2 separate regions of the Homo sapiens genome follow, and region 2 is linked to region 1. The links come from fine-mapping of genetic effects on gene expression. A gene starts in region 1. The other region holds a variant in brackets. All regions are shown on one strand. Distances are from middle to middle.

The links. PIP is the estimated chance that this variant, and not a neighbour inherited with it, causes the effect.
Region 2: its variant is fine-mapped to the expression of PLXNB3 in cerebellum (GTEx, PIP 0.93).

The regions. Positions count from the first base shown.
Region 1 is chrX:153,756,525-153,767,290 of GRCh38, forward strand. PLXNB3 (plexin B3) reads left to right here and starts at 7,725. Exons shown (of 36, transcript NM_005393.3): 1 at 7,725-7,780; 2 at 8,947-9,056; 3 at 10,349-10,766. The coding sequence starts at 9,012. It overlaps PLXNB3-AS1 (PLXNB3 antisense RNA 1), which reads right to left and starts at 9,947. Exons shown (of 3, transcript NR_199696.1): 1 at 9,859-9,947; 2 at 7,186-7,325.
Region 2 is chrX:153,022,665-153,033,430 of GRCh38, forward strand. It overlaps the pseudogene LOC112268308. Among named protein-coding and RNA genes, the nearest start is that of PNMA3, 28 kb to the right of the region's middle. The variant G/C (reference allele first, on the strand shown) is at 4,865.

The sequences.
Region 1 (10,766 bases):
ATTCACTTGCAGTAGAATGAAATTAGACCCTTATCTCACACAATGCACAAAGATCAACTCAAAACGGACTGAAGATTCAAATGTGAGACCTGAAATTAGAAAACTACTAGAAGAAACTTACGTGAAAAGCTGCTTGGCACTGGTCTGGGCAATAAGTTTTTCAATATGACACCAAAAGCACAGGCAACAAAACAAAAACAGACAAATGAGTTTGCATCAAACTAAAAAGCTTCTGCACAGCAGAGGAAGCAATCAACAGAGTGAAGGAGACAGCCTATGGAATGGAAGAACATAGTTGTAAACCATCCATCTGATACAAGGTTAATACACAGAACACACAAGGAACTCATACAACTCAATAGCAAGCAAATGTATTTTCTAACCCAGTTAAAATAACCCAGTTACACCTACTATGTACTCCTAAAAATTAAAAATTGAAAATTGAAAAAATAAATAACCCAATTTAAATGGGCAAGGACCTGAACAGGCATTTCTCAAAAGAAGACATACAAACGGCCAATAGGTCTATTAAAAAAAAATGCTCAACATCAGCCGGGTGCAGTGCTCACGCCTGTAATCCTAGCACTTTGGGAAGCCGAGGTGAGTGGATCACCTGAGGTCAAGAGTTCAGGACCTGCCTGGCCAACATGGTGAAACCCTGTCTCTACTAAAAATACAAAACTTAGCCAGGTGTGGTGGCATACGCCTGTAATCCCAGCTACTCCAGAGGCTGAGGCAGGAGAATCACTTGAATCCGGGGGGCAGAGGTTGCAGTAAGCCAAGATCGCGCCACTTCACTCCAGCCTGGGCGAAAGAACAAAACTCCATCTTAAAAAAAGAAAAAAATGCTCGACATCACCAATCATCAGGGAAATGCAACTCAAAACCACAATGAGACACCACCTCACTCAAATTAGAATGATCGTTTTCAAAAAGACAAAAGAAAACAAACTTTGGCGAGGGTGTGGAGAAAAGGGAACATTTTGGAACAGTATGGAAAATGGTATGCATGGTGGTTCCTCAAAATATTTAAAGTGAGAATGACCATACAATCCAGCAATCCCATTTCTGGGTATGTATCTAAAGGAAATGAAATCGGTATGTCGAGGCAATATCCACACTCGCATGTCCATTGAAGCACTACTCACAATCGCCAAGATATGGAATCAAACGAAATGCCCACCAACAGATGAATGGATAAAGAAAATGTGGTACAGATACACAATGGATCACTACTCAGCCTTTAAAAAGAAGGCAATCCTGCCATTTGCAACATGGAGGAACCTGGAGGACATTACATTAAGTGAAGTAAGCCGGGCACAGAAAGGCAAATACTGCATGACGCTGCTCACGTGGAAAGTAAAAATGTCAGCCTCATGGAAACAGAGCAGAACAGTGGCCGCCAGGACTGGGGTAGGGGAAATGGGAAAATGCTGGTCAAAGGGTACCAAGTTTCAGTTATGCAGGATGGAGACGTTCCAGAGATCTGATGTACAGCATGGTGATTCTAGTTAACACATTTAAAAAAATAAAACCAAAAAATTTGTTGCAAAAGTAAATAATTTATTGTTTAAGGCTAATTCATATTTGGGACAAGTATAAAGAAAACCAAGGAAAGGCTAGGACTAACTGCGAAGGGAAAAAGAAGGGTCCATGATGGCTGTCAGTGGGGATGATTCATCTAAGCAGCATATGCTCTTCCGTGTGTATTAGATTGAACAAGATGAAACTGCAATTTTTGTAGGTTAACAATAAATGAACATTAAGCAACGTCATCTGGTTTTGACCCAAGACATTTATTAATAATAAATCAATGATAAAATAAAACCAAAACACTTTATGCTAATAAACTTGAAAACTTAAACAAAATGGGCATGTTCCAGCCAGGCGCGGTGGCTCACGCTTGTAATCCCAGCACTTTGGGAGACCGACGCAGGTGGATCACCTGAGGTCAGGAGTTCAAGACCAGCCTGGCCAACACAGTGAAACTCCGTCTCTGCTAAAAATACAAAAATCAGCTGGGCGTGGTAGCGGGCACCTGTAATCCCAGCTACTCGAGAGGCTGAGGCAGGAGGATTGCTTGAACCCAGGAGGCAAAGGTTGCAGTGAGCCAAGATCATGCCACTGCACTCCAGCCCGGGCGACAGAGCTAGATTCTGTCTAAAAAAAAAAAAAAAAAAGCATGTTCCTAGAAAAATATTGTTTATCAAAAATTGACTCAAAATAGAATGATTCATCCTAAATTCAGATAGAATCTCAAGGGGCTCCAAATAACCAAAACAATTCTGAAAAAGGAGAACAAAGTTCGAGGACTCACACTTCCTGATTTACAAAATAAAACATATTACAGTGTGGTCCTGGCATAAAGACAGAGACAGAATATAATCCAGAGCCCAGAAAGAAACTCTCAAGTATATGGTCAGATGATTTTTGACAAGGGTATCAAGGCTACAAATTGGGAAAAGGGCAGTCTTTTCAACAAATGGTATAGGGGAAACTTGATATCCACATGCAAAAGAATAAAGTTGGAGGCTGGGCATGGTGGCTCACACCTGTAATCCCAGTGCTTTGGGAAGCCAAGGTAGGAGGATTGATTGAGTCTGGGAATGGGAGACCAGCCTGGGCAAAGTAACAAGATCCCATCTCTACCAAAAACATTAAAAATTTGAGGCTGAAGCACAAAAATTGCTTGAACCCGGGAGGCAGAGGTTGCAGTGAGCTGAGATCACGCCACTGTACTCCAGCCTGGGTGACAAAGTGAGATCTGTCTCAAAAAAAAAAATTAAATTAAAAATTAGCTGGGCATGGTGGTGAATGCCTATAGTCCCAGCTACCCAGGAGGCTGAGGCAGGAGAATTGCTTGAGACCAGGAGTTTGAGGTTACAATGATTATGCCACTGCACCCCAGCCTGGGCAACAGAGCAAGACCTGTCTCAAAAAAAAAAAAAAAAAAGATGGCAAATTTTGTGTTATGTATTTTTTCCCACAATAAAAAAATTACTCAAGAAGAAACAGAAAACCTAAATGGTCCCATAATTATTACAGAAGTTGGATTCATTGTTTAAAATCTATAGGGGGACAGGCAGGAAGCTACAAAAACAAGGAAGGCCAGGCCAGATGCGGTGGCTCATGCCTGTAATCCCAGCACTTTGTGAGGCCGAGGCAGGCAGATCACCTGAGGTCAGGAGTTCAAGACCAGACTGGCCAACATGGCGAAACACCGTCTCTACTAAAAATACAAAACTTAGCTGGACGTGGTGGTGCATGCCTGCAGTCCCAGCTACTCGGGAGGCTGAGGCAGGAGAATCGCTTGCACCCAGGAGGCAGAGGTTGCAGTAAGCCAAGACTGTACCACTGCACTCCAGCCTGGGCAACAGAGTGAGACTCTGTCTCAAAACAACAACAAAACAAAACAAAACAAAACAAAAAAAACAAAGAAGAGAAAAGAAAAGAAACAAAACAAAAAACAGAAAATAAAAAACAAGGAAGGCCTAGATGGTTTTACAGATGATCTCCAGCAAACATGGAAGTAACTGATCATCTCCATCTTAGACTAACTGTTCCAGTGAACAGCTGAAAAAGGAAATACTGCCTCAACTCACTTTACGATGTCTTGATACCAAAACCAGACGAGGATAATAATACGAGGCTAAAAAAAAAAAAAAAAACCACCCAATCCAGAATTGTATATGAAAAAAATACATCACGCAAAGTTGAGTTTAGTCCAGAAAATACAAGAGTGGTTTAACATTTAAAAATGAATTAATGTAATTTGCCACATTAACAGATTAGAGGAGGAAAACCCTGTGATCATATTAATGCATTCAGAAAAAGCATTTTATAAAAATTCAACATATAGCACACTAGGAATGGGAGGGAGCTTTCTAAATCTGATAAACATATCTACCGAATGCTCCCTGCAAACATCATACTTAATAATGGAACACTGAGAATGCCTCCTATGCTTTTTTTTTTTTTTTTTTTTTTTTTTTGAGACAGAGTTTCGCTTTTGTTGCCCAGGCTGGAGTGCAATGGCTCGATCTTGGCTCACCGCAACCTCGGCCTCCTGGGTTCAAGCGAGTCTCCTGCCTCAGCCTCCCAAGTAGCTGGGATTACAAGCATGGGCCACCATGCTCGGCTAATTTTTTTGTATTTTTAGTAGAGACAGAGTTTCTCCATGTTGGTCAGGCTGGTCTCGAACTCCTGACCTCAGGTGATCCACCCACCTCGGCCTCCCAAAGTGCTGGGATTACAGGCGTGAGCCACCATGCCCAGCGCCTCCTATGCTTTCATTCAAAGGAAGTAAAAGCAAGAGAAAGCAAGTCCAGGGAAGTAAAGCAAGGAAACGAAATCAGCCGGGCACAGTGGCTCACGCCTGTAATCCTAGCACTTTGGGAGGCCAAGGCAGGTGGATCAGGAGTTCCAGATCAGCCTGGCCAACATGGTGAAACCCTGTGTCTGGTAAAGATACAAAAATTAGTCAGGCGTGGTGGTGGGTGCCTGTAGTCCCAGCTTCTTGGGAGGCTGAGGCAGGAGAACTGCTTGAACCAGGGAGGCGGAGGTTGCAGTGAGCCAAGATTGTGCCACTATACTCCAGCCTGGGTGACAGAGCCAGACTCTGCCTCAAAAAAAGAAATCAAAGCTAAAAAGACTGGAATAGAAGAAACAAAATGGTCATTACTTGCAGATGATAGGATTGTGTACGCAGAAAATCAAAAAGAATCCACAAAGAGAACCCAAACATAATTATTAGACTTAATATGAGAGTTTACAAGGTTACTTGATACATAGAAATCCATTGTTTTTCTATGTACCAGCAACACACAGTCTGAATGGGAATTCAAAAGAAGGTAGCCAGGCGCAGTGGCTCACAGGCTCACGGGCCAGCACTTTGGGAAGCCAAGGCGGGAGGGCCGCTTGAGTCCAGGAGTTTGAGACCAGCCTGGGCAACATAGCGAGACCCTGTCTCTACAAAAAAATTACAAAATTAGCCAGGCACTGTGGCGCCTGCCTGTAGTCCCAGGTGTTTGGGAGGCTAAGGTGGGAGGATCACTTGAGCCCAGGAGGCTTCAGTGAGCCATGATTGCGCCAATGCACCCCAGCCTGCACGACAGAGCGAGACCCCGTCTCAAAAAAAGAAATCAGATTGATAAATGCTATGATATTAAAATTAAGACTTTCTGTTTATCACATGATACATCAGCAAACTGAGAAGACAAGTAACAGGTAGGCCGAAGACATACACCCCAGGGATTGGTGTGGAAAATACAGAACACCTGCAAAGTGTAAGCCAAGACATGCACGGGCATTTGACAGAAGAAATGAAAAGTGCTGCAATATGGCCGGTGGTCAAGGAATGCCGATTCAAAACCCAGCAGGGCACCATTTCACACCCACTGTATGCGCAGAAACTCTCAAGTCTGCTCTCTGGTGTACGTGAAGACGTGGTGCAGCAGTGGCAGTGGGGGTGTCCGCTGGGATGCCAGCATGGAGAGCTACGTCTTCAGCCCAGCAAACGTGAAGCCCACGTCCCACTGACCCAACGAGTCCCCTTCCAGCATTGAGAAGCCTGGCACACAGCAAGGAGACGACACCAGATCAGTTGACGCTGCCTTCCCATCCCTTGGTGAGGGGACCCGGCCATTGCAGGATAAATCCAGCACGACTCCCCTGACATAAGATGTTCCGGTTCCCCAAACCAGCCTAGATCCTTTCTGGTTACACCAGCTTCAGACCAGGGGCTGCCATAGCCACGCCTCTTATCTGCTCAGAAAGCGTAGAAGGTGCATATGCAGGCCATATACACACATATTTATGAAAATGGTGCTGCCTGTGGATGGATTTATTTTCTTTTTTCTTTCTTTCTTTTCTTTTTTTTTTAAAGACAGAGTCTTGCACTGTCACCCAGGCTAGAGTGCAATGGCACCATCACGGCTCACTGCAGGCACCAACTCCCAGGCTCAGGCGATCCTCCCACTTCAGCCTCCCAAGTAGCTGGGACTACAGGCTCGCACCACCATGCCTGGCTAATTTTTAAATTTTTTTATAGAGATGGGGGTCTCACTATGTTGCCCATGCTGGTCTAGAACTCCTGGGCCCAAGTGATCCTGCTGCCTTAGGCTCCCAAAGTGCTGGGATTACAGGCGGGAGCCACGACGCCCAGCCTGATTTATTTTCTTCTGTGGAAAGGAAGGAGAAACCCATTCCCCATGCCAGATTGCAGGCGTCTGTCTCATCCGGGGCCAGCAAGGACATGTGTGTGTGTGTTGGGGTAGGCATGGGGGGAAGGACAGGGAGAGGGAGAGAGGCCAGCTGGCTCCCCCAAGCCTCCCCTCCTGGAGCTTCTAAATCCCTCCCTGGCTCCTTCAAGGCTGCCTGGCCTTCCTGTTGGGGAGAGACCCCTCGCCGGCTGCTCACTCGCTTTTTGGTGGTCCTTCCCACGGGCCTGCCTGGTCTGCCTCCACATCCTCAGCGGCTGCAGGTGAGAAGCTGTGGATCTGGGGCCCAGTGGTCCAGAGCGTGGCCCGTGCCAGAATGCCCAGGTTCAAATCCCATCTCTGTGGAATGCACTCTGAAGAAACGACGTCAGGTCATGGCCCTGGGCAAGTTACCCACCTCTGTGCCCCATTTCTCTCCATGCAGGTTGGAAAGAATGACACAGCTGCTCAGGGAAGCACCCATACCCCGAGTCTGCTGGGCCTTTGAGCTCCAGGGCCAACACCTGGCCCTATACCCTGGCCGCCCCCAGGGCTCCAGCCACCTGAGCCAAGCTTCTCACCCCCAGGCCTCCCCAGCCCCATCACCATTTCCTCCTCCCTCATGGGCCCCTCAGTCTTACCGTCCTCCCACTTCCGCCAGCCCCTCTGTGGATGGCCCTGCCACAGGGGGAACAGTGCCCCAGCAGAAAAGCCCCAGGGTCGCCTGGATTCTCCTGCCTTCGCCTCCTGCCCTGGGTCCAACGCACAGTCTTCAGAATGCTGCCTCCCCAGAGCGCCTCTAGAACGCGCCCGCCTCTCTCCATGCCCATGACCACCACTGGACCAGGCCTCCCCACATTCTCTGCCCCAGTGCCACCAGCTTGCAGTTGCCCATGGCGAGACAAGTTCAAGTTCTCAAGCCTGGCCACAAAGACCCCACCTGATTTGCTGACCTCCGCCACACCCTGGGAGACGGCCCTTGACCAACCTTGTGTTCCAGTCGGTGGGAAACACTGGTTTTTCCTCAACGCCACGTGGGCATGTCACGTCCAGGCCTGGCCTGGGGTAGGCCTCAGCTCCATCTCCTGCCCAACGCCTGCCAAGGTTCATGGTTCAAGGTCATGTAGCCTGACGGTTAAGTGAAGGGGCCCTGTGATTGACTCAGCCTTGCCACATACTAGCTGTGTGACTTTATTCAAGTTTCCTAACCTCCTGTGCCTCAGTTTCCCAACCTGTGTTTGTTTCTGGATGGTGCCAGTGCCAAGCCCAAGCCTGGCATCCAGTAGGTGCTTCGTGCCAGGTTATGGAATGCCCACCCAATAGGAGGGCGCTGCCGTCTCTCACCTGCCAGGTGCCCACGGTCAGTACTCCATCATGCCCGCTGCGGCCAGCAGAGGGCAGCAACATCCTGCCCTGTGCCATTGGGCAAAGGGGCGGGCGGAGAGAGGCTGGGCTGCCTGGCCGGGCTTGTTGGGATGAGTCGGACTGGGCACGATTGCATTGTGGGGAGGGAGGCTGGGGCTCTGTGAGACGTGCTCCTGGCACCGCCAGCTGCTACTTGGCCCTCGCCGGTGGCCCACCAGGTAGGCAAGAGCTGGGGCAGGCTTGGGCTTGGGCTTGGGGTGCAGGGGCTACCAGCCTCAGGGCAAGGCATCAGGGTCTCAGGGCCAACTGGCTGGGGTCAGGCAAGAGCGCTCGGGTGTCGGCCCAGCCTGACGACGGCACTAGGTGTCTGGGAGCACGGTGTCCCCCAAGTGGTAGCCCTGGGGTTAGGAGGTGGGGAACCATGTTTCTTCCCCGAAATGGGAAAGCCAACGCCAGCCTCGGGCAGGGTACAGGGTAGAGAGGCTGCCCGCCTGGCTCCCCACCCCCACAGCCACCCAACTGGCCCAGCCAGGTGACAGCAGCCCACTGCCACCTTGCCCTGGAGCCTACTGCTGCCGTGCTGTGGGGGAGGCAGAGACCCCATCCCCAGTGCACCTGCTCCTGTGCCACTGGCCAGGGTGGCCTGTGAGGGTGACAGGGGGTCTAGCTGCTAGGTGCCCCTCCCTTCCCCATCCCCTGCATGGATGGCATCTAGGCCAGCAGGACGGTGCTTCAGAGGGTGGGGTGGACAGCCCCGGCCTGTGGACCCTCTGCCTCAGCCCATCTCAAGCAGCCTCCTCCCGTGGTCCTGCTCGCTGCCACCATGCTGTACCTGGCACCACTTCACCAGTCCCCAGGGGCAGGGCTGGGCTGGGGGTGTGGAGGAAGATCTTTTGGACAAAGGCAGGCATTGAGGGCCAGGACTGGCACTTCACCCAGGCCCCAAGGCTACCAGCCGGCATTTGCAGGGGCTCCAAGGTCCACCCCGTGCCCTTCACAGGGACCCGGGGAGCCAGGGAGGGGCATGCTTAGTGACACAGGGGTTGCAGGGCCAGAGGGGGAGGGCTGGCTGGAGGAAACCCCGGCCCTTTGTCCCCGGATCCCGGGGGTGGCTCCCTGAGGGTGGGAAGTGGCAAGGAGCCCCCTGTCCAGAACAGCCCAGTGGGGGTGACAGCACTAGCGAGTGGGGCCCTGGCCTGGCCTCTGGACAGAGGGAACATTGTTGTGGTGGAGGCAGGGCTGCCTTGGCCTGGCCACTATTGACAAAGCTGCCAGCTGTGAGGGAGCCCGGTCGCTAGGCCCTGGGCGCCACCCCCACCGCCGCCCCTCCTTCCCCAGGCCAGCTCGAATGGGGCTGAGCCTCGACTGTCTCCCTCCCACTCAGGACAATGCCCCCCCGCAGCCATCTCATGCCCATCGCCACTGCCCTGGGGCAGCTGAACTGAGCGTATGTGCCACGCCGCCCAGGAGACCCCTCTGCTGCACCACTTCATGGTAAGTGCCCAGGCCCGGTGTCCCCAGAAATGTTCCTGGGAGGGGCAGGGTAGGGCAGGATGGCTGTGGCCAGGCCCAGGACATACAGGCTGCAGCCTCCCTCATGGCAGACACTGCCCCAGATAGCCCGGGGTCCGCAGGAAGTGTCCGTGCTCTTCCTGCCTGTGTTCCTGAGATAAGCGGCTCCTGGGCCTTCCTCCAGGCGCTGCTCTGCCCTGAGTCGCAGCGGCCCCACTCCTGGTCGGCATGTGACCACACACCCAGGGCAGCATCTCTCTGTGGAGGGCAGGAGGGGCCAGAGAAGGGGCTGCTCCCACCTCTCACCCTCGGGGGCTCACCCCGGGGTCCCACCAGGCACACCCAGGAACCATCTCCAGTCTGGCACCCCTCCCTGCCCCTTCCCTGACCCCTCCCCCAGCCAGCTCTCCTGGTCTGCTCTTCTCCTGGGACACTCCTACACTGAGGCCCCCTGTGCCAGGCCCTGAGAGACCCAAACTGCTGGGGCCCATGGGGCAGGAGCAGGCCTCCCCGCACCCCTGAAGCCTGTGTTGTCTCTTGACACCCCTGGCTTCTCCCAGCACCCCCGCTGCCTTGCCCCAGTGCTTCCTCGCCCTGGAGCTGGGCGCCAGCATGGAGCTCACCCCTGCCTCTTCGCTGACTTGCTCCTTGCTCAGCCCGCGGCTGCCTGGCTCTTTCCCCCAGCTGCGGAGGGTTCCTCCTTGCAGCCGGCCCTGGCTGCCCAAGGCAGGTTTTCTCTCCCTGTCTGGTCCCTTGGGGCACACGGTGGCCTCACTCCTCTCACCTGACTTAGATCTCTCTTGTCTGGGTGGTGGGCGCAGGGGCGCGCTGTGACACAGCTTCCGCCAGCCTTCCAGCTCCCGCGGCCTCCCTCCCTCCCCTGCCCTCTCTCCATCCCTGCCCCCTCTGTGACTCACAGTCCCTCTGTTAGCGCTCTTGCGGCTTTCCAGGACCTGCCCCCCTTCAACAATCTACATGCATATAAAGTAGGAGATGAAAGAATTCTGTCCTTGTGTGCTTGTGCGTGCGTGCATGCACCCCTCCCTGCCTCTTGCTCCAGCTCTTGGACACTGTCTTTGTCCCTCCTTATGTCCCCCTCTCTCTGTGCCCCCTCTGTCTCCTTGTCTCCGCTCACTCTCTCTCATTCTCCATCTCTCTGCCTCCCTCCCTCCCTGGCCCTGAGCACCCTGGCCTCTGTCCACCCCACCTTCCACCTTCCTCTGGTCCTCTATCTGCCTTGCGCTCCCACTGCCCTGACCTGTGCCCTCTCACAGGCCCCCGTGATGGCTCGCTGGCCTCCCTTCGGCCTCTGCCTCCTCCTGCTGCTGCTGTCCCCACCGCCACTGCCCTTGACAGGGGCCCATCGCTTCTCCGCACCTAATACCACTCTCAACCACTTGGCACTGGCACCTGGCCGAGGCACACTCTATGTCGGCGCAGTGAACCGCCTCTTCCAGCTCAGCCCCGAGCTGCAGCTCGAGGCCGTGGCTGTCACTGGCCCTGTAATCGACAGCCCTGACTGCGTGCCCTTCCGTGACCCAGCCGAGTGCCCACAGGCCCAGCTCACTGACAATGCCAACCAGCTGCTGCTGGTGAGCAGCCGCGCCCAGGAGCTGGTGGCCTGCGGGCAGGTGCGGCAGGGCGTGTGTGAGACACGGCGCCTTGGGGATGTGGCCGAGGTGCTGTACCAGG
Region 2 (10,766 bases), 730 kb before region 1:
AACAGGAAGGTTACTTGAGGCCAGGAGTTCGAGACCAGCCTTAGCAACATAGCGATACCCTGTTTCTACCAAAAATTTAAAAAGTAGCTGGACATGGTGTTATGCACCTGTAGTCCTAGCTGCTCAGAAGGCTGAGGTGGGAGGATTGCTGGAACCCAGCCTGGATGACAGAGAGAAACTCCGTCTCTAAATAGATGTAGATATAGTTGTAAATAGATATCTGCTTTAATAAAAACAGCTATGTCTCTGAGTTATCAGCATTAAGCATAATACAAACATACATATTTATATTACCTGGGTATGTTCTTACTAAGCTTATATAGGCTTCCTAGTCAAAAAGTTAACACTGTATCTGTTAGATATTTAAGATTTCACAGAATATAAATTTGAGTTTAATCGAGTCATTATTCTGATGATAACTTTTATTTCAACAATATTTATAATATGGTTAAAAACAGTTTCCAATTTTTAGGGGATAACTTACAACCTTATGTTATGCTAAATTAAGTAATAGATATTCATTAAATGGCTAGATTATTTCTAAGTAAAAATACTGAAATATTAATTACTATGCATAAATTTATATTTGTATTTATATTATTTTTCCTTCTGGTCTTTATATGGTACAGAGAGGCTAAATATTTTTTGGAGCTGGGTGCGGTGGCTCATGCTTGTAATCCCAGAACTTTGGGAGGCCAAGACAGGAAGATTCCTTGAGGCCAGGAGTTTGATACCAGCCTAGGAAACATAGAGAGACACCATTTCTACCAAAAAAAAGGAAAAATATCTGGGCCTAGTGACTTGGGCCTGTGTTCCTAGCCACTCAGGAGGCTGAGGCAGGAGGATAGGTTGAGCCCAAAAGGTCAAGGCTGCAGTGAGCTGTAACTGTATCCCTGTACTCCAGCCTGGGCAACAGAGTGAAACCCTGTCTCGAAAAAAAAAAAAAAAGACTATGATACTGGCATCAATGAAATAGAATTTAGAGTCTATAAATAAAACCGTATATATATTGTCAAGTGAACTTTTGACAAGGACACCAAAACCATTCTATGGGAAAAAAAAATCTTGTCAACAAATGGTGCTAAGACAACTGTATTTCCACTTGTAAAACAGTTAATTCAGACCCCCACCTCACATCCTATATAAACTCAAAATGAACTAAACACCTAAATCGAAGGGCTCAAACTACAGCCCTCTTAGAAGAAAACATAGATGTTGATCTTCATGAACTTGGATTAGGCAATGGTTTCTTAGATATGACACCACAAGCAACCAAAGGAAAGAATAGATAAATTGGACTTCATACAAAACAAAAACAAAAACAAAAACAAAAACGTTCGTGCATCTAAGGACACTATCAAGAAAGGGGAGGAAAGGGTTGCAGGTCTTCTGCCCTCTGGGCAAGCTCAGTGCATATGCTGATGACAGCAGCCAGTGGGGAATGATGACTGATATCCTTTCTACTGCTTTGGGCTTGGAGGAATGGCTCTTCCTTGCTCAGCCTGGGATGAGCTACACTTTTACCACAGGTCTCAGTGGGTGCAACATGAGTATCAAAGGAGCCACAGTCCCCCCACTTCCCACAGAGGGAGAGAGCCATGGAGTATTTCCTCCTCAGGACTGGGTGTAGTGAAGTTCCAGTTCTTAGGAGCTTATATGTATTATTTTCCATGTGCAAACCGTGGAGCCATACCACTATACCAAGTTCTTACCACCTACTCACTTCTGTTATATCACTATCCACTGGGTCCCTTATTTCTGTCAGCTGCTTTTGTTACCTTTCCCCAGGTGCCACCATGTAAGCTGTGATAGCACTGCAGATAGAACAGAAAATGTTTCTGTGAGCATAAATATGTCCAGTCTTGCTGGTCTATCACCATGTGGTATCTCCAGGAGAGACTGATACATACTGTGGACAATTATGGTAATAAATATGGATACAAAATTCCTCTGTGTTTTAGGATAAATTTTGTTACTGAACACTCAATTGCATATGCACCTTGTCCACTGAATCCAAATTAACTCCTCGAGCCTAGTTGTGCAATATCCCATTGTTCTAGCATTCTACATTACGATGCAATTTTTGTTATTAATAGCAGATTTGGGATGAGGTTATCACCTCACTTGGTGATAACCCAATATACATCTCAGAAAAATGTCCAATGAACCAGGTCTACACAACTTTCCCATTGACAAACCTGGCACTTAATTGTGTCCACTTGTTATTTGTAAAGCCAGGGAGCAAAAGTAAGCCACCAATATGAACATCCCTAGCTCTACAGAAATGGAACTTAGGGAAATTATAAATCCACTAGGGTCACCTTCCCTCTCAAGTCAAAATTTCAAGTGCACCGAATACCCCTACCACCTAGTTTCTAGGATTAAAAGAGATCACTTAAAATGTCTCAAGAAGAAGAACTCCAGACCCATTTCTTTGTGGGTTTGGAGTAGACTTGTTCTGGTTAGGATGTAGGTCATGACAGAGCATTAATCTCATTGTAACAACTATAAAAAAATCAGATGGTCAAAAATCTCATATATATTGAGACAGTGTCTCACTCTGTCACCTCAGCTGTAGTGAAGTGGTACAGTCTCAGCTCACTGCAACCTCCGTCTCCCTGGCTCAGAGGATCTTCCCACCTCAGCCTCCTGAGAAGTGGGACTACAGGTGCACGCCACCATGCTTGGCTAATTTTTGGGTTTTTGTAGTGACGGGTTTTTGCCATGCTGCCCAGGCTGGTCTCAAACTCCTGGACTCAAGTGATCCGGCCGCCTTGGCCTCCCAAAGTGCTGGCATTACAGGCATGAGCCACCGTGCCCTGCCTGAAGTCTAAAGTAACTAAATTTCAGAGAGAGACAAACACATATCAATGGCCATTGTCCTCTCCGGTAAGAATGGTCTTACAAGGCAGAGGATTGTGCCGGCCATAGGTGCAATAATTGCTGGGATAAAGACAGTTAATGACTGTGTGGCCTGGGTAGACACATTGGAATCTGTAGGAGCCCCAAATGCATACCTAGTTCTCCCCATCAATGGATTCTCCTAATGAGTTTTTTTTCTGAGTGCGTGGTGACAGAAGTAATATGGCAGGCTGGGGTGAGACAGAGAGAGAGAGAGAGAGAGAGAGAATCAATCTTGTATTTAGGCCCCAAAGTTCTGCTTGACTCTAGCAACTGGAGGAAGCAGCCTTTAACACAAATCCTATCTTCAGGGTGTTTGAAATCTAATACTAATACTAACTAAAGATGTATGCAAGCCATGGTACAGCTCGAATTCTGATTGGATTGAAGTTATATACCTCAGGGAAACTATAGTACCTAACCAAGGAAAGAGTGTACTCTAATCCCTATGGTTCTTTGAAGCACAATGCCTGACATGCAACTTTTAAAAACCCAGAACATGTGAAGTAACAGGGAAATGTGACCCATGATCGACAGTAATTGGCATGTCATCACTTCTCTCATGTTCCATTTTCCAAAGCAAGTCTCTAGGCCAGCCTAGATTCCAGAGGTAGGGAAACTGACTCTAACTTGTGATAGAAGGAGTTTTGAAATCATATTACAAATGGAGAACCAGGGACATTAAAAAATCAATCCCAACACTTTGGGAGGTCAAGGCAGGCCAATCACGAGGTCAGGAGATCGAGACCATCCTGACTAACACGGTGAAAACCTGTCTCTACTAAAAATGCAAAAAATTAGCTAGGCGTGGTGGCACGCACCTGTAGTCCCAGCTACTCGGGAGGCTGAGGCAGGAGAATCGCTTGAACCCAGGAGGCGGAGCTTGCAGTGAGCCGAAATCACGCCACTGCACTCCAGCCTGGGTGACAGAGCAAGACTCCATCTCTCTCTCTCTCTCTCCCTCCCTCTCTCCCTCTCTCTCTCTACTCTCTCTCTCTCTCTCTATATATATATAGAGAGAGATTTATATATATATTTTTATATACGTATATATATGTGTGTGTATATATATGTGTATATATATGTGTATATGTGTGTATATGTATATGTATATATATGTGTGTATATATATGTGTATATATATGTGTATATGTGTGTATATGTATATGTATATATATGTGTGTATATATATGTGTATATATATGTGTATATGTGTGTATATGTATATGTATATATGTGTGTATATATATATAAATCTACTACAAGAGTTCACAGGCAAGTCCCTCACCTACACTTTGTCACATGTGGTCTGCTTCTGCCCCTCGTACCCTTACTCTCTTACTCTTCCTGTTGTTCCTATTGGTGGCTGGGGAAGTGACGTGAGGGCAGTGGTGCCTGTGCAGCAGTGCTCAAGGATGCATCAAGGGTTCACTCTCAGGAAACTCCCAAAGCTGCTGGCCAGATGGGTAGCCAGTCCTAGACATGGCAGAGACTGGCTGAGTTTCCCAAATGCCTCTCTTGACCAAGGCCTGCAGAAACAGAAAGTCATATTTTCACATTGGCCAATCCTTGCATTCCTCAGGAAAATGGTTCCAATGTTCCCACTCACATCCTGCTTTTTCTCAGAGCTCAGACCTGGGACCACTGAGCTGGCTGCCACAACCAGCCTCCAATACCCACACCATTCTTGGCCACACCACCCTTTTTCATTCCTGTGCCCTTGTGGTTATTTACTGAAGGCTTACCGTGTGTCTAATAGAAGGTAAAGCTCCATGACTCCCCTGCAAGAAAAATGTTCTTATTGCTCATTTACAGATGAGAAACAGAGATGTTCAGTGGTTTGTGCAAAGCCACCCAGCTGCTAGGTGAAGCCAGCTTTGCCTGCTTCCAAAGGCCGTACACACTCTTTCCAATGCAATGGCTTCCTAGGTGGTGAAGGCTGGCTTTGTAGCCTAAGAACTAT[G/C]ATGAGGCTCTTGAGTCAGGAACAGCTAGCCTCTTCCTGTTGTGGAGATTCCTGCAATGAGGAGGTAGGCCTGTGAATGTAGTGATTTGGGGGACCTAGTCTGGAGTCCTAGTACCTGGCTGTCCACCAACTCCCAGCTTCCAGACGCTGCCCCTAAGCATAAGCTTCCTCTCTGCCAGTTTCCAATCCCCTTTCTCTCTCAACACTTCCACTAGGCCATTTTGATGGTTGGGCCTGTTGCCCCCGGAGGCACATCAAGCCCTTACCGCGCAGGTCCCGATCCCAGGGCAACACGGATGCCTCCCCCTGTTTAGCTATTTGCCTCCCACAGAGACTCTGAGATTTTTCTCCCTCATCTATCTGAGGCTTCTGGGAGAAGTTGGAAGCCCACGTGCCCTTAGTACAGCTGGCCTGAGATATCCCTGCCCTGTGCAGTCCCAGATGGGCTGCTGGGGCGCGATCTTCCACCTTCCCATTCCAGGGCCTCAAGGCGGCCTCCAGAGTGGGCTCCACAGCCTGAAGGTGGCATTTCCCCGTGGGTGGTTGCAGTGTCTGCAGACAGTGAGCAGGCACCAGCGGGACCCCAGAGTGGCTGAGGGCACACTGGGCAGGAGCCAGATCGCTGTCCCCCCAGGCAGTAGGTGCGACAGCGGGTCCTGGTCTGGAGCCTGAGGAGAGGGGAGGAGGGTCTCCTTGCTGCAGGAGTCTGGGTGGGGTGAGCTCCTGGCTGCAGGGCACCTCTGGCTACAGAAGGGGACGATGGGAGAGAGAGGGGCTCTGGCTGTGGGGGAAGGGGACTCCTGGCTGCTGATGTGGGAGGCGTGGGAGGGGGTTGCCAGGTTGCAGGGAGGATGGCATTAGGGAGAGGGCTCCTGGTCAAGTGCTGGGAAAAAGAGGAGGTGGGCACATCCAGCTGCAGGGTTGCACATGATGGTTGGAGGGGCTCCAGCTGTAAGTTTTGTGATCAGGGGCTGTTCACCAGGTGAAAGAGGCGCTTCCTGCTGTGGAGGTGGGGGGTGCAGTGAAGGACTCTGAGCTGCAGCAGTAGGGGTGGGGGAGCATGGGCTGTGACACTGGGCAGGGGAGATGCTTCAGGCCCTGCATTTGGGAGTGGCTGGTCTCTGGCTGTGCGGTGGGGGTGGGCTGACTGGCAGCAACGTCCCTCTCTCCCCTTTGCACTCACAGGCTGCGTCAGAGACTGCAACAGTCAGCACACATTCCTGTCTGATCAGGCTCCCTCCCTCAAGTCCTCTGCGATGGCTCTGGCGATGCTTCGGGACTGGTGCAGGAGGATGGGTGTGAACGCAGAGCGCTCTCTGCTCATCCTGGATATCCCTGACGACTGCGAGGAACATGAGTTCCAGGAGGCCGTGCGGGCTGCCCTGTCGCCCCTGGGCAGGTACCGAGTGCTCATCAAGGTCTTCAGAAAGGAGCTCGGGGCCAGGGCAGCCTTGGTGGAATTCGCTGAGGGTTTAAACCAAAGCTTGATTCCCCGCCAAATAGCAGGCAAAGGGGGACCCTGGAAAGTGATCTCCCTGCCCCAGGCCCTTGATGCTGAGTTTCAGGATATACCCAGTTTCCCTGCATAGCCCCAGGGGCAAGCAGTGGCCAGAGGTGCAGGTGAGGCAGGAGCTGCAGGTGAGGCAGGATCTGTAGGTGAGGCAGGAGGTGTGAATGAGGAAAGATCTGCAGGTGAGGCAGGAGCTGCAGGTGAGGAAGAAGAGGCAGGTGATGGAGGAGCTGCAGGTGCAGCAGGAGCCATAGGTGAAACAGGAGCTGTGGGTAAGGGTGAGGCAGAAGCCACAGGTGAGGGAGGATCTGCAAGTGAGGCAGAAGGTGCAGGTGAGGGAGGAGCTGGAGATGAGTTGAGAGTTGCAGAAGAGGCAAGAGAGTCAGATGAGGGAGCCGCAGGTGATACAGGACCTGCAGGTGAGGCAGGAGCTGTGGGTGAGGCAGGAGCTGTGGGTGAGGCAGGAGCTGCGGGTGAGGCAGGAGCTGTGGGTGAGGCAAGAGGGACAAATGTAACAAGAGCCTGGGTCCAGCCTCGGCGCTGCACCCTGCAGGCTGTGCTGGAAAACAGGGCCTACCAGGAACTGAGACCCTTTTCAGGGAGGGAGCAGCCAGGCTGCGAGGAAGAGTCCTTTGAGAGCTGGATGGAGCACGCCAAGGATATGCTGCAGCTGTGGTACCATGCGTCGGAAAGGGAGAGGAAGAGATGGCTGCTGGAGAGCTTGGGTGGCCCAGCCCTGGACGTTGTGAGCGGCCTCCTAGAGGAAGATCCCAACTTGGCGGCACTGGACTGCCAGGCGCTGCTGGACTGCTGGGCAGCGGTGCTGGGGCAGGCGTTTGGAAACCGGGACCCTCGAATGACTTCCAGGCTGAAGTTCCTGACCTGAACGCAGGGGCCCTTTGCCTTCCTGGTATGCCTGGAAGGCCTGCTGCAGATGGCCCTGGAGAAGGGGGCCGTCTGCCCGGCCCTGGCCAACCACCTGTGACTGCGGTAGGTGCAGCCTCAGGCCTGCCCTGGCGAAGCACTCCAGAATACCCTGAGGGGGATGCACTGGAGAGGAGGCCGCCCTACTTCCTGGGGCTGCTTCAGCTCATCCAGGAGATGGAGGCGTGGGCGGCCTCCCCAGTGAGGAGCCAGCATGTTGTGGCCTGGCCAGTGGCCACAGTGGAAAGTGAAGATCCAGTTGCCGCCCAGGCAGCTCCTGCCTGTGGAGATGCTGCTCAGGCCTCCTCAGCCCAGGAAGACGCCAGCCAGGCTGACCCTGGCGTGGAAGATGCTGCTGAGACTGCTCCTGCCACCAAAGAGGCCGCCAGGAGCACCCCTGCCATTAGGGAAGGTGAAAATGCCCCTGCAGGCCTCGAAGGAGCCAGAGGGTCTTGTCCAGGCAGGAGGCCAGGAGGCTGAGGAGCCCCCCGACCCAAGGGGGTCTTATGTTCATACTGGAGGAGTTGGAAAATGAGGATGGGGCCAGGAAGGTTGGTCAGCCCAAATCCTCCCCAGGCAAATAGGCTCAGAGGGCCCCAGGGCCTCCTCTCCTCTCAGGCCGCAGCATCCTGGAGGCAGTGGGGAGGCCAGGCCAGGGCTGGTCCCTCATCCCACATCAGGATCGGGGCCCCCCACCTCCCTCCAAAGGGCCCTGGCCACCACCATCAGCCCTTCCCGGTGACCCAGATGACCACGTTGATACCAAATGGGGTTGGGGGAGGCACCCCTGCTTTGCACCCAGTGCTGCACCCAGCCCCAGCCCCAAACCCTGCCGTCTCTGGGGGGCTGGCCAGGAGGGAGCCCTGAGTGGCCAGCTGCGACCTGGGTGGGGGCACCTGAAGATGTCTGTCCCCCACCCCTTGTCCTGGGTTGGGAGAGACAGGGGAAAGAGGTCCTCTCAAGGGTGCCAGCTGCCTGGGTCTCCCAAGAGGGTTGCCCCATTTGCCGTCCCCGGGGCAGGCTGCCCCCTGTTCTGGGAAGCCCACCCTCACCTGTTTAGGCCCCGTAGTGACCCACGCGCCCAGCAGACGCCCACCCACTGCTAGCTGTCGTTCCTGTGCAAAGTTGTGTGTTGTGCACCCACCCGGGCGGCCGCCACTAGGCCCGGGGCATGTGCTGTGAGCTTCCTGTGAGCCCAGGTTCTGCTCACTGCTGTCTGTCCTGCATCTTAAACACCACCTCTGCTTTCCTGGTGTAGATCTAGGCCAGTGGCTGCTTGTTCTCGTGGAGCTGTGTGTGTTCTTCTCTGAGCTGCTCCTCCCCGGAGGCCCCCAGCACAGACCCAGGAGATGGCGGGAAGGAGGAACCAGGGCGCGGCCAATGCTCACCCTGTGACCACGATGGTAACCATGACTGTGGGAGGAAGAGCCGGACCCGGGACGGAGTGGGGCTGCCCTGCCTGAGGCTCCCAGGAGAGCTTTATGCTTTGGCATTCCACCCCTGTTGTTACTTGTGACTGTTTCCTCGACCTGGTGGGCTGTTCCCTGCTGTGTTTACTGGTGTCCTGTGACTGTCTGTGATGACTATAGGGCAGGGCCCTGCCCCAGCAGATGGGCTTGGGAGGGGGCTCCCTGAAGCCGGTGGACACTGCCAGAGTCCACGTCCTGGCAAGAGGCGGGCCCTGGGGCCCTCGGGAAGGAGGGAGGTAGCAGTGGGGTCGGCAGCAGGACGGGGGTAGACGAGGCGCCTTGCCAGGAACCCCAGGAGGAGGGATCCTAGGACCTGTGTCCTGTAGTGGCTGTTTGCAGTTTCTCTCTGTGTTGTGGTTCCCTTCTTTTCAGTGATTTCGGTACACGTTTCTCTTCAATAAATTTCATTCCATTTTCCAGCCGGTCTCGCCTCTGCTGTGGGAAACTAGTGGGAAAGGTCTCTTTGGGATAAAATGGAAGTTGGGGGACAACAGTGGCCTGGAATTCTGACCCTATTGTGCTCACTGGGATACGGTCAGGGCATAGTAGGCCAGCGATTGTAGAGAATGACCTAACTGCGATGGTGGTTCCAACCCAGAGTCAGTGGCTTATGAGGATGAGGAAAGAAACCAAGCTGAACATGCTGGATGGTGCCAGTTGACGGAACACTGCCGTGCGAGGGCAATGTGTGGCTTGCTCCCCAGGGCATGCATGGAGGCTCCCAGAACGAAGTGCATAAGACGTGGAAGGGCAGGCAGGGGACAGCAGGCTGGGGCGGAGGCCTGGGTTGAAGCTCTAGCATAGACATCTTTTTAACTGTTCCTCAGTTCCTCATGTTTATCCTGTGTGTGGAGCTTTCACCATCTCTTTGGAAAGACAGAAGAGATGGATAAGGAAAAGGAGTAGAACAGAGCGGCACCCCTTGCCTTCCCCAGAGTCTGGGTAGCGGGCGCAGGACGTGTCGCCTGTCCAAATGCGCAACTTTCACCAGTGTACGCTACGCGTGCGCGCCTGTGCACCTTGACGAGCACGCAGCCGTCATGAGTGCGCCTGGGCACGCCGCCATTTCCTGCAGCCGCGACAGCACGGTCGTATATTTCCGGTTGTCATTTTATTCTTTTTGAGAAATGGTCTCGCTCTGTTGCCCAGGGTGGAGTGTAGTGGCGCTGTCATAGCTCACTGCAACCCCGACCTCCTGGGCTCAAGCGATTCTCCCGCCTCAGCCTCCCGACTAGCTGGGACCACAGGCGTGCAACCACCATACCCGGAACCACAGTCACAGTCGGTCGCAGTGCCCGCTGGGAAAATGCGACCGTCCACAAAGCGAAACGGCCATCGGGGCGAGTTCGGCCTCGGCGGGGATTCTCCTGAGGTCACGCCCGCTCTGGCCGCCAGAGGACGCCCGAGGATCACGAATGGGCCCGAGGAGCTGGCTGCCCCTTCCCACGCTCAAGGTCTGCAGCCGTGGCCAGAGTGGCCTTGGGGTGACCGCGCGTGGACCGTCGCCGGCGGGAGGGAGCGCGGTCCCGCGGGGGCCGAACGGGGCTCCTGTGGCCTGAGCTTGTTTCGCAGGGAGCCCTGGCGGCCATGGCTCTGGGACACCAGACAACGGTCGTCAGGGCTGTCCAGGGTAAGGGGGTGTGGACGTGCAGACAGGGAGGGCAGCTGGACCCTCCAACCATGCTGGGCCCTTGGGCTGACCGGGGCTCGTCTGTGGGGCTCAGTGAGGAGGGACTTTGTTCCCTAGGAGTTTGATGAGGGAGCGCCATGGGGGTGGCGTCATCCTGACATCCTGCAGGGCAGTGGAGCCTTACTTTCCCTAGCCCCAGAGATCATGAAGTCTCTCTTTGTTTAAAGGTAGAAACCAAGGACAAGAGATTGGTGGGAACTGCTCTGGTTACAAAATTGCAGAACCAGACTTCTTAATTCTGGGACCCGTGCTGCTTTCATTACACTCTACCGCTTCCAGTTTGTGATGTGCTCCTTCTGTCAACAGTTA